4 linked regions of the Homo sapiens genome follow. The protein of the gene in region 2 interacts with the protein of the main gene of each other region in a pairwise test. Each region holds a gene or a part of one and is shown on either strand. Other genes may lie near its edges.

Region 1 (7,023 bases), on a different chromosome or scaffold from region 2:
TCACGCCTGTAATCCCAGCACTTTGGGAGGCAGAGGCGGGCACATCATCTGAGGTCAGGAGTTTGAGACCAGCCTGGCCAACATGGTAAAACCCTGTCTATACTAAAAATAACAAAAATTAGCTGGGTGTGGTGAAGTGCGCCTGTAATCCCAACTACTTGGGAGGCTGAGGCAGGAGAATCACTTGAACCCAGGAGGCAGAGGTTGCAGTGAGCTGAGATCGTGCCACTGCACTCCAGCCTGGGCAACAGAGTGAGACTCTGTCTCAAAAAAAAAAAATGTTTTTCTAAAGTGAATCAGTATTATATTTTTTTATCTTTTCGGTTTGTACTGTATTGACTATTCTTAGCGACAGTGACATACTCATTTTAATTTGAATATAATTTACATTTCGTGGAAAATTATTATACCAATTGAGAATAAAAGGTGATCTGATTCTAGAAAATTATCACCATATTTGTTTAATCCATGAGAATAATAATGGTTATAAAAATAAAACCCCATGGCAGGTAAATGCAGTGCTGATCTTGGATCAGAACAACAGCAACAACAAATTTCTATGAAGGACATTATTGGGACAGATTGAGAAATATGAATATGGTGTGTATATTAGTTAATAGTATTGATCAGTGTTAAATTCTCTGATAATTATAATGTGGTTATATAAGAAATTATCCTTACCCTTGAGAGAGATACACTAAAATTATCAGCAGTAAAGAGCAAATGTGGGCCAGGTGTGGTGGCTCATGCCTAAAATCGCAGCACTTTGGGAGGCTGAGGCAGGTGGATCACCTGAGGTCAGGAGTTCGAGACCACCCTGACAAATATGGTGAAACCCTCCCTGTCTCCATTAAAATACAAAAATTAGCTGGACATGGTGGTGTGCAACTGTAGTCCCAGCTACTCAGGAGGCTGAGACAGGAGAATTGCTTGAACCCAGGAGGCAGAGGTTGCAGTGAGCCAAGATCTTGCCACTGCACTCCAGCCTGGGTGACAGAGCAAGACTCCATCTCAAAAAAAAGAAAAGAGCAAATGTGGGAAGATATTAACTGGTGAATGTAGGTGAAGGATATACAGGAGTTCACTCTTAGAACTTTTTTATCAGTTTCGAATTGTTTTTAAGTGTGCATCTTTTAAATGTTACATTTTCCTATGGAGTCAAATAATATCACATTTAACGAAATTGTTAATAATTTATGAATGTTATCTAATACCAAGTCTATATGTAGATTTTCCCAGTTATCCCAAAAGCCCTTTTTGTTTAGTTTGCCCATTTTGTGACCATGTATCGTATTTGGTGGTTATGCCCTTTCAGTCTCTTAATTTTGGACAGTATCTTTTTTTTATGACACTGATTTGTTGAAGAGACCAGACCAGTAATACTATAAAATGCCCCTCTTTCTGGATGTGTATGGCTACTTTCTTACGTTGTTTAGCTTGTTCTTTGACTTCTGTTACTTTCTATAAACTGTAAGTTGGAGCTTTAGCTTTAGCTTGACAGAGTCAAAGTAAACATTATCAGTTTGAATGTGTCATGTGCTATTATTTCATATTGCAGTGTATCAGGAGACCCAAACTATCTAGTTCTTCCACCACTAGTGGTTTTGTTATTGATTAAAGAATTAAAGTGATGATAGATAAACCCCACCATTCTGCAGTGAAGATTTTTTTCCTGTGACCAGAAAGATTGGTGTTAATTCTTGATTTTTTCTTCTTTTTTAGGATCTGGTTATGGATATCCTAAGAGTATTGAGCACACCAGACTTAGAAGTACGAAAGAAAACTCTGCAGTTAGCACTGGATCTTGTCTCTTCTAGAAATGTTGAAGAGGTAAAAGGAAACTCTGACAGCACTTTGTAGCTATCAGGCCCAAATATGATGTAACTCTCACTTATTTTTACTTCATTCTATAAGCTGGTTATTGTCCTGAAGAAGGAAGTGATAAAAACAAATAATGTGTCTGAGCATGAAGATACTGACAAATACAGACAACTCCTAGTGCGAACATTGCATTCCTGTTCTGTCCGATTTCCAGATATGGCTGCAAATGTTATTCCTGTGGTATGTAATTCTGATGACTTTAATTTTGAAATTATCTAAAAGAATTTTTTAAAAAATATAGTTATTTGACAAACTCCAGAAATCTCAGCTGCCTAGAACCATTAAATCTCATGGTGAGAAGTGATCTTTATATCTACCTCTACCTTTAAACTCAGAAGGGTGAGGACTGACTTCTTTCACTTATATATTCATCAAAAAAACAAAAACAGTGACCAAAAAAAAGCTTTGCATATTATTTTAATTGATGATACAGTTACCTAAAGTAAAATTATGCTGTGTATATATATTATTCAGTAAGGCAAATAGGTATTTATTTTAAATAGCTTTAGCTCTTAAAGGAATCAGTTATAGGAAAAATTCACATATGTAGAATATTTTGCTGTCACTGTCAGATAAGTGAGGTATGTTATTATAATTTGATTTTTGCCTTTGAGCTCTTGAGTTCTCTCTAAAATGATTTTAGTTACAATTTAGGAGGATCGAATTCATTTATTTATTTGGAGTTTTGGATCTCTAGCTTATCTTTTATAGTGAATTTTAAAATAAATTTTGCTGCACATAAAATGGAAAAGCCATTGTGACTTTGTTTACATAATAGTACTTGTCTCTCAATTTACATTTTGTTGTGTATTTGAAAATTATTAAGAATTACAAGGGTCAGGCATGGCACTTCATGTCTGTAATTCGAGCACTTTGGGAGGGCTAGGCAAGAGGATTACTTGAGGCCAGGGATTCAAGACCAGCCAGGGCAATATAGGGAGACCCTGTCTCTACAAAAAAATTAATATTAGCTAGGCATAGTGTCATGCCTGAAGTCCTAGCTCCTGGGGAGGCTGAGGCTGCCAGAGGATCACTTGAGCCCAAGAGTTCAAGGCTGCAGTGAGCTATGATTGTGCCACTATTCTCTAGCCTGGGCAGCAAAGCAAGACCCTGTCTCTTAGAAAACAAAAAAAGAATTACATTCTTTTAATTTATTTCTTGTCCTAGATAATTTTCTTTTCGAAAATTGTTAGTTCCATTTTCTTTTTTTTTTTTTTCTTTTAGTTAATGGAATTTCTCAGTGACAACAACGAAGCAGCAGCTGCTGATGTCTTGGAGTTTGTTCGTGAAGCCATTCAGCGCTTTGATAACCTGAGAATGCTTATTGTTGAGAAGATGCTTGAAGTCTTTCATGCTATTAAATCTGTCAAGTAGGTTTAAAATACATTTAAATGTAAGGTCAAGTAAGCATTTTATCAGTTTTTATCTTTAAAGGGTCAGTTGATAGAAAATAGAATGGAGAGGACAATCAAGCCAAAATAAGACAAGTTTGTACAACAAGCATCTCGCTAACTCCACTCTCATTTAGTCTATAATAAATGGCCCAAAATAATTTTTTTAGGAGTGATTTAGCTCAGGGTCTCTATTCTGATTTTCTCTAAAACATTGTGAATCTTAAAGTAACTAAAGAGCATATTTTTAAATGGCATCACTTTTTGGCTATTACTATTATTTATATCTTCCTTTCACATTTAATGAAGAGAAAGATTGAAAATGCAACCTAAATCTGTCTTTCCCTTCAGAGAGCCTTTGCTAATGAGAAAGGACTGTTGCATCTAAATTTTGCTTCATTTAAAGCATCTGATGGATAGTCTCTAACAGACTTGAAATATGTCTCAGGAAGGAAGGGACAAGTACAAAATTGTTTTTATGATATGAAAATATATTAATATTTATGGAAGTGAGCAGAGCAGGATTTGCTTCCTTTGTGAGAAGAAAATCATATTAAGGATTTGCTTTTTTTTTTTTTTTTTTTTTTTTTGTGAGAGGGCTTTCCGGCAAAAACCAGAAAGCCTGCTAAACAAATTTTAAAAGAGCTATGACATTAAGAATTTGTTTTTGACAGCCATAATCTCTTAGAGCTTTGGTTTCTATAATTAAGTTTTTCTGAATAAATTTAATTAAAATCTTAGGGGAAAGATGACTAAGGACTTTATTCAGTTTAACATTTTAAACTAAAGAATTGTTGGCTGGGTATGGTGGCTCACACTTGTATTCCCAGCACTTTGGGAGGCCAAGGCAGGAGAATTGCTGGATGTCAGGAGTTGGAGACCAGCCTGGGCAACATGGTGAGACTTTGTCTCTATTTATTTTTTTAATCTAAATGAATGAATGAATGGTTGCTTTCTTTACTATTATTTTTTTACTGATCCCTTGTACTTCTTCTGTATCCATTGTTCAGTTCAACACCTTGCCTCTTCAGTGACTGAAAATAAAAAGTGAATTACTTTTTACATTAAAATAATACATTCCTGATTTTTTGTTTTTGTTTTTGTTTTGTTTTTACTTTATTTATTTATTTTTTTAAGAGAGATGAGGGCCTTGCTTTGTTGCCCAGGCTGGTCTCGAACTCCTGGACTAAAGCAATCCTCCCACCTCATCCTCCCCAGATGCTGAGATTACAGGTGTGAGCCACAGTGTCTGGCCATAAAATAATACATTTCTTAGAGTAGTAAGAGATTAAGCCAAATTTGCCTTCACTGTGTCCTAAATGGACACTTTACTGGGAAACATTTTGGTATTTTATTTTTACTGCTAGGTTTACCAGTTTTAGAATGTTCCTAATAATAAGAACAGTTATTTTACTTTTAATCTTTGTGATTTCTGGAGAGAACTGAAACCTAGGTTTTGTTAGATTCTTTCTGAAATATTTATCTAAAATACTTTAGAACTGCAGAATCTTGTTGGTTTTTGTTTTTTGTTTTTTTGTTATTGAGACAGAAGCTTGCTCTGTCACCCAGGCTGGAGTGCAGTGGCGCTATCTCAGGGCATTGCAACCTCCGCCTCCTGGATTCAGGCAGTTCTTTTTTTTTTTTTTTTTTTGAGATGGAGTCTTGCTCTGTCTCACAGGCTAGAGTGCAGTGGCGCGATCTCGGCTCACTGCAACCGCCGCCTCTCATGTTCAAGCGATTCTCCAGCCTCAGCCTCCCAAGTATCTGGACTACAGGTGCGTGCCACTGCATCCAGCAAATTTTTTTTGTATTTTCAGTAGAGACGAGGTTTCACCATGTTTGTGAGGCTGGTCTTGAACTCCCAACCTCAGGTGATCCGCCCGCCTCAGCCTCTCAAAGTGCTGGGATTACAGGCGTGAGCCACTGTGCCCGGCCTCAAGGAGCTCTTATGCCTCAGTTTCCTCAATAGCTGGGATTACAGATGTGCATCACCATGCCTGGCTGATTTTTGTATTTTTAGTAGAGATGGGGTTTCACCATGTTGCCCAGGCTGGTTTTGAGCTCCTGGGCTCAAGTGATCCGCTGGCCTCAGCCTCCGAATGTGCTAGGATTACAGGCGTGAGCCACCGTGCCTGGCCCTTGTTTTTTTTTTTTTTTTGAGACGGAGTCTCGCTCTGTCACCCAGCCTGGAGTGCAGTGGCGCGATCTTGGCTCACTGCAAGCTCCGCTTCCCGAGAATGGGTTCCCGCCATTCTCCTGCCTCAGCCTCCCGGGTAGCTGGGACTACAGGCGCCCGCCACCATGCCCGGCTAATTTTTTTGTATTTTTAGTAGAGACGTGATTTCACCATGTTAGCCAGGATGGTCTCGATCTCCTGACCTCGTGATCCGCCCGCCTCGGCCTCCCAAAGTGCTGGGATTACAGGCGTGAGTGCCTGGCCCTTGTTTTTATTTGAGCTTAAATTAACAAAGAAAGATCTCTGCTTCAAGATTTGTCTGCCAAGTTCATGTTTCAGATCTTGTATTGTGCTAGGATTTACCGAGGAGCATTATGGATCCTGGGAGAATACTGTAGTACCAAGGAAGACATTCAGAGTGTGATGACTGAGATCCGCAGGTCCCTTGGAGAGGTATGTTTTACTTTAGTAAATGTTAGTTTATATGGTAATTTTTCCTTTAGGAAAATCTGACTTTTTATAGTGATTTGCTTACATTATTTACACTTCTGAGTTAGATTTTGTTTGAACAAAATGTTCTGTGTTTATTAAAAAAAAAAAAAAAAAAAAGAAGCAGTAGCTTGTAAAATTCTGCTTTAGCCTGTATTCTGAAGGAAGAATGCCTTAGAGTAAGTCTGACTTCAGAATATTTATGCAGTAAAACTGACAGTATTCTTCATCCTAACAACCTTATGGTAGAATAGAAAGAACAGTGGACTAATTATCAGGAGACCTGACAATTAGTTCTAGTCATTGTTGTGTCGACAGTTAGCTGGAGGACCTTGAATATAAGTTCCTCAACCTAACTTGACATCAGTGTTTTTCACCTATAAAATAAATTAAAATAGGTAATGATTAAATACTCTTAGTGCTCTTATATTAGGTAATGGACTGGTATTGAGTAATAAATACATAATAGCCATTCAGTTAATTTAAAAGTTAGTTGATGAGGTTATTATGTACAAATAAGTCGGATTTATTTCATTTTAGAAGGATGAGTACTGTTTTGGTTAAAATTTCAAGGAAAGGAATGAAGAAGAGGAATACGACTTAATGACCATCTGCTTTGTGTTAGACACTGTCCAATGCATTTTTCTATTAGGTAAAATGTGTAGAAAGAATTAAGATTTCCACTTAGCAGATTAAGAAACTGAGGTCCAAAGTAGTAAGTGGCAGAGTGAGAATTCAAACCCTGGAATATCCATCTCTGAAGCCCCTATTCTACCTACTACATTATCCTGGGAAGGAAATAAATTGAAAGCAGAGTTCCCAGTTCCAAAAATCCCATTAGGGTAATGCCTTTTTTAGAGAAACAATCAAATATTTAAAGATAATTTTGCTTGCTGTTGATACTATTACTAAAATGATGTTTCCAATTGACTTTTAGATCCCAATTGTAGAGTCAGAAATAAAGAAAGAAGCTGGTGAATTAAAACCTGAAGAAGAAATAACTGTAGGGCCAGTTCAGAAATTGGTTACTGAAATGGGTACCTATGCAACTCAGAGTGCCCTTAGCAGTTCTAGACCCACCAAGAA
Region 2 (6,967 bases):
AGCTTCCTGAACCAGGCAGGCGAGGCTGCCTGGGGACTTCCTCCTCTTCCCAGCCCTCTGAGCTGGAAGCGTCAGCTCATGGGATGAATGGCGCCCCGGCATGGATGAAAGCCACTTGCCCCAGCTCCCTCCAGGAGTGTGCATGGCAGAGCTGGGGCTGCCACGTGAACCCAGGCCTCAGGACCCTGGCACAGCCCCTGCACCCACACTTGCCATTTCTCCGCACCCCTCCCTGGACTCCGCCAGGTTAGGGTCTCCCAGGCCCTGGCACCCAGTTCAGGCCTGGAGACACCTCCTCTCCTTCCTGCAGGGTGACTCCGACAGCCCTTGCCTGCCAGGATGGAGCCTGGACTCTGGAGGGCATCGTGTCCTGGAGCAGCACCAGCACCTCCTGTTGTCACCAGGCGTGGATGCCCGCATCATGAAATTCATGCCTGGGAAGGCGTGGAGGCCGAGACCACCCCCCCTACCCCGCATCTGTGTAAAACACAAATAAAGCCATTGAGAGCAACTGCATACACCTTTACCTCTGTGTCCTCACCAAGGCAGGTGGGCTGAGCATGATGTGGCTGAGGTGGGGGGACAGATGCTGTCACGGGGACAACCTCTGTAGAGGTAAGATCAGGAGGGCTTGCGAATCACCCAGCCCTACTCCCTTCTTCATACAGATGGGGAAACCAAGGCCCATGTTCATATGCAGAACGGTCAGGGCTGGGAGCAGCACCAGGGGTTCCAAGCACCCTGAAGCTTCCATCTGGGCTGCGGGCTGCTGGGTGGGGGAGCCACGAAGGGGGACACACTTGCCCAGGGCAAGGGTCTTCTCCAAGCCCCTCCCTCCCAACTCAGATGCCAGGTCCAGGTATAATTCCATGTGCACTTCGGGAGTTCCGCAGGCTGGGATGAGATTCTTTTAAGCAGAGCTCTGGATGCAGCCCCCAGCGGTGCCCTCGGCTCACAGGAACCCGTCCCCTTGTGCAGCTGTTCCTGCCCCAATCTGCCCTCACTCCAGATGCCAGCTGTGGGCATGGGCAGGTGCTCACTGTGGCAGCTCCCTAGGGTTGCAGGGGCCATGCCCAGGCTGTGCTTTCTGGGCCCCAGACCCTGCAGCTCTGAAACTGCCCCCTTTCTTGGGCCCAGGCTCTGCCCTGGCTCCCAGGGCCTTGTGGCCAGCTGCAGGCCTCACCCCGCCTCCAGGAGACACCCAGCCTCGGCGTTCCTTGGTTTTCTTCTAGAGAGACCCACTCCTCCTCTGCCCTCCCGGGAGATGCCACGCATGGCCCTTGCCCCCGGGTGCCTTCCCCAGAACCGTCACCCACCCCGGGCTGCTCTCATCTGCCACCCTCAGGCAGCTGCTCTTCCTTTTAAAAACTTTATTTAAATGGAGACTCTTAGTCAAATGATTGGAAAACCAATAACGAAAAATAGTTCTTCAGGTTCTTCTCCTGGTAAGGCGGAGGACACACCAAACTGCACTGGCCCTGTCAGGGGACACGGCACCCTCGTGGGACCAGGCTCAGCCCTCGGGGTGGCACGAGGTCCTGCAGGCTGCAGGACCCTCACACTCCAGCCCCGTCTGGTGACCCAACCCGGGCCCGTGGTGCATGCTGGGGAAGGCCACTGGCCGGCCCCTGGGCTTCGGCTCCTGAGGAGGCATGGCCCCACACCCTGCCCGGCCATAAATATATACAGATTCCTGGGCATCCAGGGCACCAGGACCGACGCAGAGCTGGGGTCCTGTCCCTAAGCCTGTGGCACAGCGACTCTTGACATGGGAGCCAGGGAGCTGGGACCGCCGCACCCCTCCCCTGCCTCCCTCCTGGGGTCACCACCCTCAGGCGGCTGCCAGCTGGCCTAGGACGCGGCGGAACTGCTGGGTGCTGTGGCCCAGCTCCTTGACCCTCTCCACCATGTCCTGGGCCGCGGAAGGCGATGGGTACTGCAAGGCAGCGGCCTTGGTGGTGGCCACGATGCCGCGCAGGAGGTCGCACAGCAGGTTGCTGTAGTGGGTCACCTGGCTGCGCACGTCAGCAGCCTTGGCCTGCCGTGACAGTGTGTCCCCGATGAACACCAGCTTGTGGGCGCTGAGGATGACGAACTTGCTGTGCGCCACAAAGATCTTGGGCGGCTGGTTGGTGGCCACGGCGGTAAAGAAGGCGTCCACGGCGTTGGTCAGTGTGGTCAGGTTGGCCTCACACTGCTCCAGGTAGAAGAGCAGCAGCTGCCGGTCCGAGGGCCCCAGGCCGCCTGTTCGCCCCGGGGCCAGGGGTTGGGCTGGCGTCCAGTTGGCCAGGTCGTGGTCTATGGGCCGTGACACCTCCTGTTCCAGTCGTTCAAACTGCTTCAGCTGGGGCAGGAGGGAAGCAGGAGCAGGGTTAGGCTCTCGGGTGAGTTGGAACTACAGGCCGAGACCTGGGCACCCTGGGCTGGGCTTCTCTAAAAGGGCCGCTACTCAGAGTGCATGGGACTGCAGGGAAACGGGCAGTCTCCTCTCCCGGGGACGGGACCAGGAACCATGGCAAGCCTTCTGGAGGTTGTTCAGTTACCCTTCCACCAGTCTCAAAAGGTCAGACTCCGTGCCCTGAACATTTTTGAAATGACAAGATGGACAACAGAAAAGTGGCTGCCTGGGGTCGGGGGGTCACCGTCCTGGCTTGGGTACTGTCCCACGTGACTTGAGACGTGGCACTGGGGAAAATGGCTGAAGGGCACTGGGGACCCCTCGACCCTATCTTTGCAACTTCCTGTGAATCTATAAATATTTCAAAATGGAAGGTTAAAAAAATTTTCCCCTTAGTTCAAAAGTAACATACACATTATAAAAAGATTCAAATATATCAAACAGAAAAAACGAAGATGTCACCTGTAATCCAATGCCCCTAAATAGAACCTCTGCTAAATCATCTTCCAGAACCACACACGAAAGTTAACATTTCCACTCCCGTGCCTAGGAGTCAGCTGAAGGGGACAATGTGTCCTCACTAGAGCCGCTCTGGCTCCGGAAGTGACCAGCCACACCCAGACTCAGGACTGGTAAGCTCTGTGCCACCCTAGGCGCAAAGATCCAAGCCACAATGAGCAAAACCAATAGGAAACCTCCCCTTCCTAACACTTAGAACCTCGCACTGTCCCCCTTAGGCAGCCACTTGGTGAAATCCTCCATCTCTCCGTTCCCTTAGCCAGTGAGATACATACTCCGCTTTTTTTCTTTGAAAAGCTCTGATGAGGCAGGGTGAGGTGGCTCATGCCTGTGATCCCAGCACTTTGGGAGGCTGAGGCAGGTGAATCACTTGAGTCTGGGAAGTCCAGGCTGCAGTGAGCCCTGACAGAGCACAGGCAACAAGCTTTGTGGGGTTTTTTTTTTTTCAATACTATTTTTATTTTTATAAAGAAGGAGTCTTGATCTGTCACCCAGGCTAATCTTTTTTTTTTTTTTTTTAAATGGAGTCTTGCTCTATCGCCCAGGCTGAAGTGAAGTGGCACGATCTCGGCTCGCTGCAACCTCTGCCTCCTGGGTTCAAGCGATTCTCCTGCTTCAGCTGGGATTACAGGCCTGCGCCACCACCCCTGGCTAATTTTTGTATTTTTGGTAAAGATGGGGTTTCACCATGTTGGCCAAGCTGGTCTCAAACTCCTGACCTCAGATGATCCTCCCGCCTCTGTCTCCCAAAGTGATGGGATTACAAGCGTGAGCCACTGCACCCAGCCCTTTTTATTCTTTGACAACTCTTCATAGTTATATAATATCCCACTGCATAAATGTCCATACTTTATTGAATCAATACTCTCCTATTAGACACTTTGTGGGTGGAGATTTCAGATTCTTCACCGATACAAAAATGGGGCAACAGATGTTCTCATCAGTAAGTCTTCATGGACTTGCATTTAACATGGACTTTATGTCCTTGGCCTTGGAATTCTACATCTTTAAAGTTCTTCACATATATTCTTGCCCTTTAATCCAGCTTCTAGCAAGTTATCTAAGTGATTCATCAGATACGTGCAAAGACTAGTATTCATCACAGCACTGTTCACAAAAGTAAAACTCTGGGAACAGCCTAAGTGTCCAACAGCAGGGGACTGGTGAAGTCAGTGCTGGAGGCACACAGAGGACGGACAAAGTACACGACCACTTCTGAAAACACGGCGATCCCAGAGTTCTCTCTCTAGACAGAGATATAGACCTATATATTGTTGATATTTCAGGAGGTTTTTTGTTTTTGAGACGGAGTTTCGCTCTTGTTGCCCAGGCTAGAGTGCAGTGGTGCGATCTCGGCTCACCGCAACCTCCGCCTCCTGGGTTCAAGCGATTCTCCTGCCTCAGCCTCCCAAGTAGCTGGGATTACAGGCATGTGCCACCATGCCCAGCTAATTGTTTTGTATTTTTAGTAGAGATGGGGTTTCTCCATGTTGGTCAGGCTGGTCTCGAACTCCCGACCTCAGGTGATCCGCCCGCCTCGGCACCCAGGAGGTTTTTAAAACAATTTTATTTTATTTTTTTTGAGACGGAATCTCACCCTGTCGCCCAGGCTGGAGTGCAGTGGCGCAATCTCGGCTCACTGCAAGCTCCGCCTCCTGGGTTCAAATGATTCTCCTGCCTCAGCTTCCCAAGTAGCTGGGACTACAGGCGTGTGCCACTATGCTGGCCAATTTTTGTATTTTTAGTAGAGATGGGGTTTTGCCATGTTGACCAGGCTGGTCTCAAACTCGTGACCTCAAGTGATCTGCCCGCCTTGGCCTCCCAATGTGCTGGGATTACAAGTGTGAGCCACTGTGCCTGGCCACAATTTGTATTAATGTATACAGACTTGGGTCTCACTACGTGGCCTGGCTGGTCTCAAACCCTTGGCCTCAAGTGATCCTCCTGCCTCAGCCTCCTAAAGTGTTAGGATTACAGGTGTGACATTTATTCTTTTCTTGGGTGTTTTCTTTAGTAGATTTAACAGGGGTGCAGGTGCAGTTTTGTTATGTGGGTACAATGTACCCATTAGGTAATTTCTCAGCCCCCACCCCCTGCCACCCTGCCACCGTTCTGAGATGTCAATGTCTAGCCTCTCCTGAGTGTCTCCATGTGCCAGGTACTTCCCAGGCATCTTCCACTTTTCAGTGATTCTCACCGAGCTCTCATGAGGCGGCTGCAGCCTCACTGCTGTGTGTCGTGGGTCTCAGGCCCCTGCCTCTGCCACCTCCTTGGTGCCCAGAAGGTAGGCGAGGGAGATTTGACGGGTGATATTTTTATGTTCACTTCGTGCTATCCTGTATTTTCACTTTTAAAATTATCTTCATAATCAGAATAAAGCTCCCTTAGTGTTTTTTTACATACCTCTTTCCTACCCTGAAGAACTGATTCAAAATATGAGGAAAATTCTATTAACATGTCTGCATATAAACACAGCAGTATATTTATAATAAGGGGCCAGATGTGGTGGCTCACACTATAATCCCAGCACTTTGGGAGGCCAAGGCAGGTGGATCGTTTGAGCCCAGGTGTTTGAGACCAGCCTGGGCAATGTGGTGAAACCTTTGTCTCTATAAAAAATATAAAAATCAGCCAGGTGTGGTGGCAGGCGCCTGTAATCCCAACTACTGGGGAGGCTGAGGCAGGAGAATCGCTTGAGCCCAGAAGGTTGAGGCTGCAGTGAGTTGAGATCGCATCACTGTACTCTAGCCTGTGTGACAGAACAAGATTCTGTGTCAAAAAAAAAAAAATACTAAGGAAGTGTGGGTACAATACAAACATTCAATAGACGCTAAGTGGTCTTTGAAAGAATCCACAAGAATGCTTAACGCCATGGCAGATGCTGGGACAGAAGAGTCGAATGCCCACAGGACACCATCCCGGCCATGCAGGGAGCAGCTTGGAGGAAGGAGCAGGGCAGAGCCAGCCCCGTGCTGAGCCTATGGCAGCTGTGAGGGGTCTATTTTCTGCTCTCACCCCACTCTCTAATTCCCTAAATGTCTCCAACAATTACTCTTGAAAACTTTAAAATAAACCAAGTGAAAAGATGAAGATGGTCAGGAGGCAGGGGGGTGGCAGGCCGGGCCCAGCTCTGAGCACTGTCAGACAACATGAGAAGCTGGGGACCCGGGGTCGGCCCTGCAGGGCAAGAGCTGGGGGCTCAGGGGGTCAGCGGGCAAAGCTGGGCCTTGCTCTGCTCCGGGGCCTCACCTGCTGCAACTCCAGCTGGCTCTTGCCCTGCCGCGTGATGCTGCCCTTTTCCAGCAGCTCCTTCTGGGTCTTCTCAAACTCCTCCTTCCCCTGGAGGGCAGAGACAGGGGCTGCGCTGAGGCCAGTTTTCTGAGCCAGAAGCACAGGCCAGCCCTGTGGCGGGCGCAGTGAGCTGAGTGGCCACCAGGTGGTGCTGCGTGTGCGCGCACACACACGCACACGTGGACGCACACACACACTAGCACACGTGGACACACACACACACACAAGCACACGTGAACACACACACAGACTGGCACGTGCAGGGGCAGGCAGACAGACACACACACACACACACACACACACACACACACACACTCCCCCAGGCTGGCATATGTGGGACACAGCCCCCCCAGGCTGGCACATGCGGGGACACACAGAGAAGGTGGCTTCCTAGGAAGCAACCCTGGCAGCCCCTTTCACCGCCTGCCAGCTCAGGAAGAGACTGGGCAGAGGGTGGGGTACCCGCAGAAAGTCCGCAAGCTCCACCCTGCCTTCCCAGGCTCCAACACCAGGAATCACACCCAATCCCTCCCCCTTGGCCTAAAGGCCTGGCCACCTGGTCCCTGCCCCTGGATGCCTCTCTGGCCCAGCTCAGCCTGGAATGTTCCTTACCAGGACTCCCACCCGGCTAGCACCCAGGCCTCTGCTCCAGGGGCCAGCCTGGGAGGAGCAGTCCCAGCCACCTCCCACCACCTCCTGCTGCTCCCCCACGCTCAGAGCATCCTTGTGTGTGTGCACATTTCTGCAGATCTGTCTCCC
Region 3 (6,843 bases), on a different chromosome or scaffold from region 2:
CTCAGGCAGCGGGGCCTTCTTGGGGTGCTCGCTTAGCTCAGGCTGGGAGAACTTCTTCAGTTTACCAAACTCAGGCTTCGGAGGTTTTTTGGGCAGGTCGCTGGGCTCCGGCTGAGAGGCCTGGAACTTTGCTTTGATGCTCCGGAAGTCCTGATGGCTCTCCTAGGAGACGCAGAGCCAATGAGGCAGGGGCTCAAACACACAGAAGGGGCATGGAAGGATGGGCCTGGGGACCCTCAGGCACAGCCCACAACCACCACCCCTGCGCCCAGGCCCGGTCAGCCCTCAGCTCTTTCCCAGGAGCCCCCATGGATCCTAGGATCCTGGGACCGACACCCCTCCCTACTTCTCCATTTAGTGCTGATTCCACACCCAACCTCCTCTAGCAGCACTGGAGATCCCGACATCCCTCCTGCAGCCTCCAGTCCCACTGCCCTCCCCCCATGGGTGGTACCCCACCCCCCCAGCATCCTTGACCCCCTCATTCTTTCACCCCTCCCACTGCATGTCTCCAGTCTCGTTCCATTGCCCAGGCTGGAGAGCAGTGGTGCAATCATAGCTCACTGCAGCTTGCAACTCCTGGGCTCCAATGATTCCCCCGACCTCGGCCTCCCCAGTAGCTGGGATTACAGGCTTGAGCCGCCGCGCCCAGGCCCCCAGTCCCTTCTGTGCTAATTTCAAAACACATCCGGAATCCAACCACTTCTCACTGCCTTCACCACTGTCACCCCAGGAGGTAGTGGGAGGCAGTGTCTGCCCTCCCCCAACCAATTGCCTGGATTACTCTAACAAGCCCTTCCCTGGGCCTCTGCCTACCCCCTTCCCTGGTCAGTTCCCCCCATGGCAGCTGGAGGGAGAAGCCTGTTGAACCCTGAGTCTGTTTGTGTCCCTCTGCTCAAAACTCGGCAATGCTTCCTCATGTCCCCACAGTTCAAGCTAAATGCCTCATAAAAGCCTGGGCGAACCAGCCTCCCTACCCAGCCACCTTCTCCTCCCTGCACCCTGAACACTTCCCTCCGACCTCGGGGCCTCTGCCCTGTCCCTGACCCAGGACATGTCTCTGCACCACCTGGGTCTCTCCTTTTCCTCCTCCCAGCCTCTGTTCTCATATTTTCTTATTAGAGAGGCCATCCAAGGCCACCCTATTTGTTTATTTTTATTTTTTGAGATGGAGTCTTGCTCTGTCACCCAGACTGGAGTGCAATGGCGCGATCTCGGCTCACTGCAATCTCCACTTCCCAGGTTCAAATGATTCTCGTGCCTCAGCCGCCCAAGTAGCTGGGATTACAGGCACTCGCCACCACACCTGGCTAATTTTTGTATTTTAACTAGAGACAGGGTTTCACCACGTTGGCCAGGCTGGTCTCAAACTCACGACCTCAGGTGATCCACCCTCCACCCGCCTCAGCCTCCCAAAGTGCTGGGATTACAGGTGTGAGCCACCGTGCCCAACCTAGACCACCCTATTTTTCTTTCTTTCTTTTTTTTTTTTTTTTTTGAGACGGAGTCTCACTCTGTCACCCAGGTTGGAATGCAGTGGTGGAATCTCGCCATACTGCAACCTCCGCCTCCTGGGTTCAAGCGATTCTCAGCCTCCTGAGTAGCTGGGATCACAGGTGTCTGCCACGACGCCTGGCTAATTTTTTTTGTATTTTTAATGGAAACAGGGTTTTACCATGTTGGCCAGGCTGGTCTCGAACTCCTGACCTCAAGTGATCCACCCACCTCGGCCTCCCAAAGTGCATGAGCCATCACGCCTGGCCTAGACCACCCTATTTTAAATGGATCACCCCATCCCACTACTGCCCTGCATTCAGCATGCATGATTTTCTCCATCGTACCCACCCCTACGTATTATACTATTTTACATTGTTTTTAATGTGTCTTGATTTTTTTTTTTTTTTTTTTTTGTCTCTCTACACCACAACTTCCCTCAGTTCCTCAGCCTCTGCAAGGCAGAGACTTGGCTCATTCATTGCTGTCTTCCCAGGGCCTGGAACATGGTAGGTGCTCAGTAAATATTTGCTGAAATAAACAATATTCAGGCAGCACAAAGACAGCCATGTACTCAGCCTGACCATCAGGAAAACACAGAGATGCCTGGAGACGGCCATGCGGTCCCTCTCACACCGTCTCTGACATGCGGGCTGATGGTCAGGAATGCTCACAGTTGACAGTGCCTGAGAGGATTGGTGCAGACACCGTGGGCACAGGCGCTGTCTCCTGCATACCCAGCTGTCCCAGCTGCCCTCCTAGCTGGCCCTGCAACCACTCCTCACAGAGGTAGGCAGATTCACAAGAAGGCCAGGCCTCCTTAGTCCTACAAACGCCCCTTTCACCTGTGGTCAAGGAGATTGGGGGAGGGAAAGGGCAGAAACGTGTGGCCTTTGCTTCCTGCGTGTGCCTCACTTTCCCCATCCAGAGGACCAGAGACCAGGATTGCTCCTTGGAAAGGCAGCAATTCCCACCTGGGGCCTGAAGTGCCCCTGTCAAAGCCCCGAGTGGTTTGAAGGAAGTGCTCCCGGGCGACCACAGGGCTAGATAAGTCAGGGTTAGCAGGTCACAACTTGGGTGACTGGACGGGGGAGGGTCATGACCCACTTTGTCACCCCGCAGGAAAGCACTGCTCTCACCCCAGCAGCCCGTTCCCACATGGCTGCTCATGTTGACCTGGGGAGACGGGAGTTGTCCCCCCGGGGAGTCCCATCTGTCCCCCTCGCAGTCCCAACCTGAGCGTGAACCCCCAGGAGCCCGCGCTGTCCTGGGGTGTGCCTGGTGGCCGCCTACCTCGGGTCCTTTTTGCCGACCCTTCCCGTTTCCCAGATGTCTTTCGCAGCCACCCCCCGCCCCCCCGCCCGCCCCTCCACAGGTGGATCCTATCCTTCTGGGAACATCTGTGTCCCTTGCTTCCCAGCCAGTGAGGCACAGGCCTCTTCCAGCACTCACCATGGCTGCAGGCAGGTGATGGGCCATGGGATGAGTGGGACCCGAGCTGGGGCCGCTGCCTTCAGGAAGTGACTGTGGCTTCTGCTCCACGGTCAGCACACAGGGTGGGGGCTGCTAGAGGTGGGGCGGGGGAGGGCAGAGGAGGAAGGGAAGGAGGTGGGGAGGCTCCAGTCCGTCTCCAGATCCTGCCAGCCACTTCTTTTTTTTTGAGACTGAGTCTTGCTCTGTCGCCCAGGCTGGAGTGCCATGGTGCCATCTCGGCTCACTGCAACCTCTGCCTCCCGGGTTCAGGCAATTCTTTTGCATCAACCTCCTGAGTAGCTGGGATTACAGGCGCGCACCACCGCTCCTGGCTACTTTTCGTATCTTTAGTAGAGAAGGGGTTTCACCATGTTGGGCAGGCTGGTCTCAAACTCCTGACCTCAAGGGATCGGTCCGCCTCGGCCTACCAAAGTGCTGGGATTACAGGTGTGAGCCACTGCCCCGGCCCCTGCTGGGCACTTCTATTTCGCTTGAATTCCTGTCCTGCCTGCTACTGTCCCAAGCTTGGGGCACTGGTTGCCCGCATGTTCCTAACATGGTCACTAGTTTCTTTCTTTTTTTTTTTTTTTTTTTTTTTTTTGAGACGGGGTATCACTTTGTTGCCCAGGCTGGAGTGTAGTGGCGCAATCTCGACTCACTGCAACCTCCGCCTCCCAGGTTCAAGCGATTGTCCTGCCTCAGTCTCCTGAGTAGCTGGAATTACATGCATGTGCCACCACTGCCGGCTAATTTTTTGTATTTTTAGTAGAGACGGGGTTTCACCATGTTGGTCAGGCTGGTCTCAAACTCCCAACCTCAGATGATCTGCCCGCCTCGGCCTCCCAAAGTGCTGGGACTACAGGCGTGAGCAACCACGCCTGGCCAACTAGTTTCTTACTCTCTATAGTCCCCATCATTCCTACTACTTTGGTGTCCCCATCTCTGGACTCCAGGGAGGACTCCATGCCAGGCCCTGGTGACCTCCTGGGCTAGAGAGCCACAGGATGGGGAGATCTCAGCAGATCAGGGGTACGGACAGCTCTGGGGTTTAGGAGGCTCCTGGGGAGGCCCAGAGGCCCAGGACGTGGGGGCCCATGTGACCGGGTGAGGCCTCTGCTGTCTGCCCTGGTTGGCTCATCCGCCTTCCTCATTTCAACACTTCCATGAAATCCAATTCCCGGCTCTGAGCAGGACTCACTTGTTCTGGGGCAGATATCACAGGCCATGGATGTCCCAGGCTGCCGCCCTGGGCAGAAAGCTTAGCTGGTACAGCAGATTTGGGGGTCGGTGGGTGAGTGGTGTCAAAGGCCTTGCACCTGGGCCACGCACGGTGGCTCACGCCTGTAATCCTAACACTTTGGGAGGCTGAGGCAGGAGGATCACTTGAGCCCAGGAGTTCAAGACCAGCTTGGGCAATGTAGCAAGACTCCATCTCTACAAAAAATATAAAATTAGCCAGGTGTGATGGTGCACGCCTGTGGTCCCAGCTGCTTGGGAGGCTGGGGTGGGAGAATCACTTGAACCCTGAAGGCGGAGGTTGCAGAGTCAAGATCACGCCACTGTACTCCATGCTGGGTGACAGAGAGAGACTCCATCTCAAAAAAAAAAAAAAAAAAAGGCTTTGCAGTTCTGGAGGAGTGAGGGGGTCTGAGGACCCGAGGACACACCAGATTCCCAGAGGTTAGAGGTAGTAGAGAGAAGAGGAACCAGGAGACAGAGACAGGGGCCAAGAGGGGGTGAAGGCAGTCACTTGTGGTGCCGAGGACTGGCCAGATAAGGACAAGCCCTGACCACAGAGCTCAGCCCACAGGAGATCAGTAATCTCCGTCACGGTAGACAAAGGGAGAAAACACCTGCTAAGAGAGTAGAGAGCCCTGGTTTTCAGTTTGAGCACATGTTGGAATTGCCTGAACAGTTAAAAAAAAAAAAAAAAGAACCGGCGGTTGGGCAGTGTGGCTCACGCCTGTAATCCCAGCACTTTGGGAGGCTGAGTCGGGTGGATCACCTGAGGTTGATCACCTGAGGTTGGGAGTTCAAGACCAGCCTGGGCAACATGGAGAAACCCCATCTCTACTAAAAATACAAAAATTAGCTCGGCGTGGTGGCGCATGCCTGTAATCTTGGCTACTTGGGAGGCTGAGGCAGGAGAATTGCTTGAACCCAGGAGGCGGAGGTTGCAGTGAGACGAGATGGCTCCACTGCACTCCAGTCTGGGTGACAGAGCAAAACTCCATCTAAAAAAAAACAAAACAAAAAACAGAACCTACAAGAAACTCTGACTTAATCAGTCTGGGGTGTGGCCCGAGCAAGTATTTTTAAAACATTTTAAAATTTTTTTTTTGAGACAAAGTCTTGCTCTGTCTCCCAGGCTGCCTCCCGGCTTCAAGTAGCTGGGATTACAGGTGCCTGCCAACATGCCCGGCTAATTTTCTGGATTTTTAGCAGAGCTGGGGTGTCACCATTGGCCAGGCTGGTCTCAAACTCCTGACCTCAAGCAATCTACCCACGTGGGCCTCCCAAAGTGCTGGGATTACAGGCCTTAGTCACTGCGCCTGGCCTGCCTGTTTTCACGCCTCCTTTAAGAGCACAGACATCAGGATTCTGCCATCTCTGTTGTGCCTTTGCATCCTGTCCTGGGGCACAGTTCCCAGATGTGGGTTGCCCTCCCAAAAAGGAGTCTCGGGAGGACAGTATGGGCTCTCTGTGGGTCTCCAGAACCTTGGCAAGTGAAGGAAAGAATGAAAGAAAGAACAAGTGGCCAGGCGCGGTGGCTGACGCCTGTAATCCCAGAAGTTTGGGAGGCCAGGCGGGCGTATCACCTGAGGTCAGGAGTTCGAGAGCAGCCTGGCCAACATGATGAAACCCTGTCTCTACTAAAAATACTGTTTGTGCACACCTGTAATCCCAGGTACCTGGGAGGCTGAGGCGGGAGAATCGCTTGAACCCGGGAGGCGGAGGTTGCAGTGAGCTGAGATTGCGCCATTGCACTCCAACCTGGGTGACAAGGCGAGACACCGTCTCAAAAAAAAAAAAATTAAATTAAATAATAAAAATAAGTAAATAAATAAATCAAGCAATGCTTGGCCACAGTAAGGAGCTCAATCAAGGTAATTAAAGGATTGGATGACAGCTGATGGATTCCCAGGTGCCTGGGCTGGTCACTACCCGTGCACTCTCGCAGCTAGGAGGGTCCAGCCAGGGCGCGCGCACCAAGGCCCCACGGGGGCGCCGTGGGGGTGAAGCGCAGGTCCCGGAGCTGTAGTCATGGTGCGCCTCCCCGCCAACTACCCTTTGTGTATTTGGCGCCTCCGTAGGGGCTCCCGGCAGGGTTCCGCGCGGCGCGGCTGCAGACAGGGACAGATAGGGTTACCGGAATCCCGGAGAAGGGAGCCCGGACCAGGGGAGTGAGAGTTCGTTAGGGCGCGCCTTGGGGAATCTGCGGGGTCGGAAACGCGAACAACGGTGTGCAGGGGGAGGAGCCCGGGGAGCACGTGGGCGGCGGATCCCAGGGCCGCAGGGCGCCCTCCACCTCCCCGCTCCTGGCCCGCAATGAGGGTAACCGGACCGGCACCTGCAAGTGACAGCTGGGGCTGGACAAATGCCGGGCACGGGCCTCTGGCCGGCCTCAGAGCTGTTCAGCGCGAGCCCGCGGCTTCCAGCCAACCTGCCCGCTATCCCCACTGCTCTCCCGGCTTTCATTCCCCCGAGTCTGAGATTCCTGGGCGCCCCCTGCTGGGCGGAGCCGGGGCCCAAGAGGGCTGGGCTCCTGTGCATGGGGGTTGGGGGCCGGCTTGAGGGTAGGAGGTCGTTTCTGCAGTGGACAGGGTGAACGGTGGAGGACAGGTGGTGAGCCAGCTCCCCAGGCCTCGCGGCAGT
Region 4 (7,821 bases), on a different chromosome or scaffold from region 2:
CTTTTCTTTTTTTTCCCCCCACCAAAAACAGGAGTTTTGTCACCCAGGCTAGAGCACAGTGGTGAGAGCACGGCTCACTGCTGCCTCGACCTCCCGGACTCAAGTGATCCTCCCTCCTCAGGCTCCCGAGTAGCTAGGACTACTGGCATGCACCACCATGCCTGGCTAATTTTTAAAATTTTTTTGTAGAGATGGGGTGTCACTATGTTGCCCAATCTGGTCTCAAACAGCTGGGTTCAAGTGATTCCCCCCCACCTCGGCCTCCCAACGTGTTGGGATTACAGGCATGGACCACTGTGTTCAGCCTCAAAGCAATCTTTATTTGTATTCACACTATTATCAGTTCCCTTCTCTTAATCTTCTCTCCAGCCAGCCAATCTTTACCTCTTCGCTTCTTCCAAATGACAAAGGTACTCATAAGCCACGTTCTGACGTCTCCTTTCATCCATCTCCTCTGCAGTAAGTCTTTCATTATCCAGGACAGCTACAACATAAAAGAAAGAATGTAAACACCAGGATCTGTAGCCTTCCTGAGTGATAAAAGATTGCCACAGAATCAATTTCCTGCCACTCACCTAGAAAGTCAGGATAACTAATGAGTGTGTAGCCAGCCAGGTGTACTACAATGACTTTCTTAAAAAAAGAACTATGTGGTTTCAACTATAATCATCTTGACCTTTTTAAAAATGTATGATAATATAAATATGTACTAAGTTTCAGTGTAATCTTGAAAAATACTGTCTTGAGATTTTGGCACAAATCTGTCCCTATCTGCCAGAACTCCTTCTAAATACAGATCTGATAATATTGTTTCCCTCTTTTATTAATGACCAAAGCCAGCAGTTATTGAGACATAAGTGGCAGTAATTGTACGAAGCATTTTACACGCATTCTCTCATTGAAACCCCACAACAATCCTGTGATTATCACTCCTATTTTACAGACGAAGAAACTGAGGCTGGGTGAACTCAGCCCCATGGCAAATAAGTGACAGGGCCTGAATCCAAACCTGGAGAGTCTGTCTCCAAAGCCTGAGCTTAACCTTGAAGCAATCTGCTTCCTTCATGGGCACCAGGTGTGGAATAAATTCCTAACTCCTTGGGAAGGCATTCAAGGCCTTTCCCAGTCTGGTCCCAACTATTTTTGGAAACTCTCCTCTTCCCTTCCTCCCACCACTGTGCAGTCTACATCACTCAGTTCCCAACACAGTATCCCTCTACTTTCAATACCTTTGTTTATGCTCTTCCCTCAGGTCCTGTCTCTTGTTCCACATGCCCTATCAAACTTTTTTTTTTTTTTTTTTGAGACAGGGTCTTGTTCTGTCACTCCGGCTCGAGTGCAGTGGCACAATCATGGCTTACTGCAGCCTCGACTTTCTGGGCTCAAATGATCCTCCTACCTCAGCCCCAAGCAGCTGGGACCACAGGCATGGGCCACCACGCCTGGCTAATTTTTTTTTTTTTTTTTAAGAGATGGAGTCTCACTGTGCTGCCCAGGCTGGTCTCAAACTCAAGGCCTCAAACTATCCTCTCACCTCGGACTCCCAAAGTGCTGGGATTACACGCAGGAGTCACTATGCCTGGCCACCTGTCAAACTTTCTACACAGCATTCTTCAAGGCTCTGTTCAAATGTCACCTTCAGGCCAGGTGCAGTGGCTCACACTTTGGGAGGTCGAGGCGTGGGGATCATTTGAGATCAGGAGTTTGAGACCAGCCTGACCAACACAGTGAAACCCTGTCTCTACTAAAAATACAAAAATTAGCCAGTGTGGTGGCCGACGCCTGTACTCGGGAGACTGCAGGAGAATCGCTTGAACCTGGGAGGTGGAGTTTGCAGTGAGCTGAGATTGCACCACTGAACTCCAGGCTGGGCGACCAGAGCAAGACCCCCTGTCTCCAAAAAAAAAAAAAAAAAAGTCACCTCCCGTGCTCATACTGTCTTCCCCAGGCCCCTTCTCCTTACCTACATTACTCTGTATGGCTAGTAAGTTCAGCATCTTTTATCATTATTGCACCTTATAATCATTAGCTTGCACACCTGACTCTCTGATTAAAACGCTCTTTGGAGACAGGGCCTGATCTTACTCATCTTTAATTTCACAAACGTGGCACAATACCTCACGTATAACTGTTGATGCGTGAAATGTTGATCCTTTAAAAAAGAACATTATTCCCACAATATAAAATAAAACCGAAAACCTCAAAATCCCAAAGGGTCCTCCTTTAGCCAATCCTGCCTGCAGTTCAATGACGTCCAGGGCCGACAACAGAAAATGAGGAAGTCAGAGGATTTTCTGCTTCTTTTTTTTTTCTTTATTACTATTTTACTTTTGAAATCTTGAGGAGGGAACTAAGCCCGAGAAAACTGAAGTGACTTGCCCAGGACGGCACCTCGTAGCTAGCCTGGGACCGGACAGGTCTGGACCCTGGTCTATCCCTTGGGTCTACCCCGCAGGCAACACTAGGGCAGCGCCTTTCCACGAAACGGGCAGAGCCCGCGTACCCAGACCCCCAATCCCCGGGACACGCCCTGCGCGGTCATCCTGCCACCTCACTCTAGGCCGTCTTCCCCAATCTCGGCCGAGCCTGGGCGGCGAGAGGCGCTGGGTGGGGCTCCCCCTACCGCGGCCCCAGCTAAGGCGGGAGGCCTCGGGGGTCCTCTCCGCCGCCTCGGACCCCGAGGGGGCGCGAACCAGGGGCCTCCCCGCCCGCCGCCCGCCGCCCCACCGGGACGGCTCTTCCGGGTCCGAGCTGCCGGCAGCCGCCCTGCCCCACCCGCCCGGCCGAGCCCCCAGGAAAATCGCGCCTCGTCTGCAATTAGCCCAGCCCGAAGCCCCCGCGCCGCGGAGCCCCGCACTCACAGCCATAGTGCGGCCGGGCCACGCCCAGCCCGTCAACCTCGTCTGCGGCGGACATGGCGGACGAGCCCGAGTCTCTGCTGAGGAAGCCGTGAAACCTTGGAGGCGCGGACGGCGGTAGCTACAGCTCCTGCCAAGTGCGCGGGCTTGCCGGGGTCCCCGAGGCCCCGCCCCGTGCCGTCAGCCCCACCCCGCAGGCCCCGCCCCAGCGGCACCGCCCCAGCGACACCGCCCTGAGCGGCCGGAAAGAGGCGGGGCCAGAGTCACCGTGCCCCGCCCCTAACTCCGCCCCCTCAGCCCGGCCCCGCCCTGCATCCCGCTATGGTCTCCGTAGGCGGAAGGAAGAAGGTAGAGCCCATCCTCCAATCGGGCTCACGCTGAGCTTGCCCTGCCGGGAATGCCCGCCCAGGTTTATAGCCCCGCCCCCAAGGCCACTGCCCTATCCGCAACTCTAACCGAAAGGCTGCCGGTGTCTGCTGCCTGAAATCAAAATAGTGGGTCATCTCCCTTCTCTTGCCGGCCCAGCTAACCTCTGCACCAATATTTGGAGAAGACACCCTTTGAGGTGACCCAGGTTGTCTTGTTGGACACAAGCAGGCCCCAAACTGCCATGAAAGCCCTCCAACCCCACTCTCCGCAGTTTGGCAACCTGGCCTCAGTCCTCTTAGATTCGGCAGCAGTCACCAGATTACCCAGGTACCCAGGTATTTGAGATGCGGATGCTAAAGCCGAACTCTGTCCAAATTCCCTACCTTTGGATCCCTTGACATTGTTCTTTGCAAGTTCTTTTTAAAATAACTCTTTTCCCGTATCAGGGATGCCTCTGCCCCCTGCACCTTGTGGCTTGCCCTTCAGATATTGGTATTCAACGGTATTCTGTCCGCAGCCCTCTTCTGTTTATTCTTTTTTCTTTTCTTTCTTTCTTTTTTTTTATTTTCTTTTTTTTTTGAGACGGAGTCTCGCTCTGTCGCCCAGGCTGGAGTGCAGTGGCGCGATCCGGGCTCACTGCAAGCTCCGCCTCCCGGGTTCGCGCCATTCTCCTGCCTCAGCCTCCCGAGTAGCTGAGTCTACAGGCACCCGCCACCGCGCCCGGCTAAGTTTTTGTATTTTTAGTAGAGACGGGGTTTCACCGTGTTAGCCAGGATGGTCTCGATCTCCTGACCTCGTGATCCACCCGCCTCGGCCTCCCACAGTGCTGGGATTACAGGCGTGAGCCACCGCGCCCGGCATTTTTTTTTTTTTTTTTTTTTTGAGACGGAGTTTTGCTCAGTCGTTCAGGCTGGAGTGCAGTGGCGCGATCTCGGCTCACTGCAACCTCCGCCTCCCGGGTTCAAGCGACTCTCCCGCCTCAGCCTCCCAAGTAGCTGGGATTATAGGTGCCCGCCACCACGCCCAACTACTTTTTTTGTATTTTTAGTAGAGGCAGGGTTTCACCATGTTGATCAGGCTGGTCTCGAACTCCTGACCTCAGGTAATCCACCCGCTTCTGCTTCCCAAAGTGCTGAGATTACAGGTGTGAGCCACCGCGCCCGGCCCTCTTCCGTTTATTCTTTGCCTACTCAGTAATCTTTTCTACACTCGCCTATAACTGCTGAGGACCCCTCGATATGTATCACCAGACCAGATCGTCTGGAAGTCCCTCAGTATTTTCAGCTAATGAACACTTTCACCTGTGTATAGGGCAGACACTTCAAATCCCACGTGTCAAATACTGACCCTGCTCCTGCTATATTCTCTATTCACAGAAGTACTCAATTCCCAGTGGGAACACCCCAGGCTCCTTGCCTCGCACCCTACATCCAATCTGTGTTTATTTCTGAGATGTCTACTTTTGTCTCCATCCCTGTTGTGATTACACTGTAGTCGCCCTTCTGCCAACTAGATCCTCACAGTTATCAGGGTGTTCTCTCTAAAGTGCAAATGCAATTGTGTTTCTCTTTTTAAATTTTTTTTTCTATTCCTCCCTTCAAGATAATGGGCCAAGTTCAGCATGATTTAGCATGCCAAATCATAGCCTGACTCCAGATGTTTTGCTCCAGCTATTTTCAATGTATTCACTCTTCCTTCAGACTATTAAAGATACTTGAAAACCTGTAAGAACAAAACACCCCTGTAGAAAAGTGGGCAAGGGTTTCATTTATTAAGCCTACAAAGTAAAAAGTTATTTCATTCTTAAGCTTTTAAGTTCACTTTACAAATTGTATTATTCTATTTATAAGTCTAGCACATTTTACCAAACACTTTTCAGAAACTGAATGATTTATTTATTTCGGAGGCGGGGGGGTCACATTTTTATTGGGGGCCACAGGGGACATGGTCTTCTCCATGTCAATGGAAGTGCTTGCAGTTTCTTCAACCACTCCATGCTTGGGCCTTGGGGGTGGCTGGGCATGTCCAGCATGTTCCCATCATCTCGGAGGGGCACTGGGTTGTTGTGGGGCGTGGCCTAGTTGATCCTGGTGGAGTACATGGTATAGGGGCAGACTGGGGTCAGATTTATAGCTAGGCCCCCGATGGTGAGGAACAGGACCAGCACCCGCTCCTTAGGCCAGGCATTCTTGAGAAAGGCAGCCGCAATGGCAACGAGGACATAGAGCATTCTGAAATTTCCTGAAAATTTTTTTTTAAGTCTCACTCAGTTAATTCAACATCTTCAAATATTTAAAATTATGCCTACTAGGGCAGGCACAGTGGCTCACACCTGTAATCCGAGCACTTTGGGAGGTCAAGGTGGGTGGATCACCTTAGGTCAGGAGTTCGAGAGCAGCCTGGCCAACATGGTGAAACCCCCGTCTCTACTAAAATACAAAAAAATTAGCTTAGTATGGTGACACACGCCTGTAGTCCCAGCTACTCGGGAGGCTAAGGCAGGAGAATCACTTGAACCCAGGAGGCAGAGGTTGCAGTGAGCCGAGATTGTGCTCCTGCAATCCAGCCTGGTTGACGGAGCGAGACTGTCTTTTAAAAAATAATAATAATTGCCGGGCACGGTGGCTCACGCCTGTAATCCTAGCACTTTCGGAGGCCGAGGTGGGCGAATCACGAGGTCAGGATATTGAGACCATCCAGGCTAACACGGTGAAACCCCAGCTCTATTAAAAACACAAAAAAAAAAAAAATTAGCCGGGCATGGTGGCGGGCACCTGTATTCCAGCTACTCGGGAGGCTGAGGCAGGAGAATGGCGTGAACCCTGGAGGCGGAGCTTGCAGTGAGCCAAGATCATGCCTCTGCACTCTAGCCTAGGCAATAGAGCGAGACTCCATCTCAAAAAAATAAATAAATAAAAATAAAAAATAATAATAAAGAATAAATTGTGCCTATTATATTGTCTATATTAGATTTCCTATTACATTTTCTTTTTTTTTTTCTTTTGAGATGGAGTTTCACTCTTGTCACCCAGGCTGGAGTGCAATGGTGCAATCTCAGCTCACTGCAACCTCCGCCTCCCGGGTTCAAGGGATTCTTCTGCCTCAGCCTCCCAAGTGGCTGGAATTACAGGCACCCGCCACCACACCTGGCTAATTTTATATATATATATATTTTTTTATTAGAGATGGGGTTTCACTATATTGGCCAGGCTGGTCTCAAACTCCTGACCTTGTGATCCACTGGCCTCGGCCTCCCAAAGTGCTAAGATTACAGGCATGAGCCACCGCACCTGGCCTAGATTTTCTTTTTAGTTCATTCAATCGTATAAAACTTTTTCAAAACTTTTTTTTTTTTTTGAGACGGAGTCTCACTCTGTCGCACAGGCTGGAGTGTAATGGCACAATCTTGGCTCATTGCAACCTCTGCCTCCTGGGCTCAAGCGATTCTCCTGCCTCAGCCTCCTGAGTAGCTGGGATTACAGGCACGCACCACCGCGCCCAGCTAATTTTTGTATTTTTAGTAGAGACGGGATTTCACCATGTTGCCCAGGCTGGTCTTGAACTCCTGACCTCAGGTGATCCACCCACCTCTGCCTCCCAAACTGCTTGGATTACAGGCGTGAACCACTGTGCCCGGCCTAGATTTTCTTTTTAATTCATTCAATTGTTTAAAACTTTTTCAAAACTTAGTAATTCCTATAAATAAACATACAAGCATAACAAAGCTAACATTCTCTTAGATGGCCTGATTCCATGTGTAAACTTAGTAAGCTTTCAACTCAAAAACCTAAGTCTAAAACTAACTCAATTACACATTTAAAATGATTTACAAAAAAGCTGTCATTCAAGTCGGCCAAATTTTCTTAAACATTGCGAATACATAAAATGTGAAATATTTCTTCTTCTTCTTCTTTTTTTTTTTTTTTTTTTGAGACAGAGTTTCACTCTGTCACCCAGGCTGGAGTGCAGTGGCGTGATTTCGGCTCACTGCAACCTCAGCCTCCCAAGTTCAAGTGATTATCCTGCCTCAGCCTCCTGAGTAGCTGGGCTTACAGGCGCACACGACCACACCCGGCTAATTTTTGTATTTTTACTGGAGGTGAGGTTTTGCCATGTTGGCCAGGCTGGTCTCGAACTCTTGACCTCAAGTGATCTGCCCACCTTGGCCTCCCAATGTGCTGGGGTTATAGGCATGAGCCACCATGCCCAGCCGAAATATTTCTTCTTAACTCCAACATATTAATCCAATTGTTCATTCCATAAAGGCTTTCTTTACTTAATTACAAAGTTTGTCTGAGGTGAAAGCCACAGAGATGTTAAGTTACCAACTGCACTGGTACCTTACTATACTAAGTGTTGCACATTTATTTTCTCAGCTGATCCTTGTAATAATCCCATTATGTCCATTTTACACTTGGGAAAATGGAGAACTGGGTTACTTACCTGAAGCCACACAGCAAGAGGCAGAGCTGGAACTCAAACCCAGGCCTGTCTAATGACAAAGCCCAATTCCTAGTCAATAAACTCAAGATTCAGAGAAATAGACATTAAGATAATAACATGCTGGCCAGGCACAACGGCTCACACCTATACC

What was found.
Region 1: the proteins of BCAR1 (region 2) and COPB1 interact in binary tests that used the Homo sapiens proteins (3 or more experiments, as listed by UniProt).
Region 3: the proteins of BCAR1 (region 2) and PRAM1 interact in binary tests that used the Homo sapiens proteins (3 or more experiments, as listed by UniProt).
Region 4: the proteins of BCAR1 (region 2) and IQGAP1 interact in binary tests that used the Homo sapiens proteins (3 or more experiments, as listed by UniProt).

Annotation. Positions count from the first base shown.
Region 1 is NC_000011.10:14,475,797-14,482,819, reverse strand, and holds part of COPB1 (coatomer subunit beta), read left to right. Parts: intron 1-1,722; coding exon 1,723-1,830; intron 1,831-1,914; coding exon 1,915-2,061; intron 2,062-3,105; coding exon 3,106-3,251; intron 3,252-5,804; coding exon 5,805-5,901; intron 5,902-6,874; coding exon 6,875-7,023. UniProt on the Homo sapiens protein: The coatomer is a cytosolic protein complex that binds to dilysine motifs and reversibly associates with Golgi non-clathrin-coated vesicles, which further mediate biosynthetic protein transport from the ER, via the Golgi up to the trans Golgi network.
Region 2 is NC_000016.10:75,227,680-75,234,646, forward strand, and holds the end of BCAR1 (breast cancer anti-estrogen resistance protein 1), read right to left. Parts: intron 6,257-6,967; coding exon 6,167-6,256; intron 2,345-6,166; coding exon 1,832-2,344; 3' UTR 502-1,831; downstream 1-501. UniProt on the Homo sapiens protein: Docking protein which plays a central coordinating role for tyrosine kinase-based signaling related to cell adhesion. Implicated in induction of cell migration and cell branching. Involved in the BCAR3-mediated inhibition of TGFB signaling.
Region 3 is NC_000019.10:8,499,619-8,506,461, forward strand, and holds the start of PRAM1 (PML-RARA-regulated adapter molecule 1), read right to left. Parts: upstream 3,023-6,843; 5' UTR 2,974-3,022; coding exon 2,947-2,973; intron 584-2,946; exon of another isoform or gene 527-583; coding exon of another isoform or gene 494-526; intron 163-493; coding exon 1-162. UniProt on the Homo sapiens protein: May be involved in myeloid differentiation. May be involved in integrin signaling in neutrophils. Binds to PtdIns(4)P.
Region 4 is NC_000015.10:90,383,437-90,391,257, reverse strand, and holds the start of IQGAP1 (ras GTPase-activating-like protein IQGAP1), read right to left. Parts: upstream 3,017-7,821; 5' UTR 2,917-3,016; coding exon 2,862-2,916; intron 485-2,861; coding exon 385-484; intron 1-384. UniProt on the Homo sapiens protein: Plays a crucial role in regulating the dynamics and assembly of the actin cytoskeleton.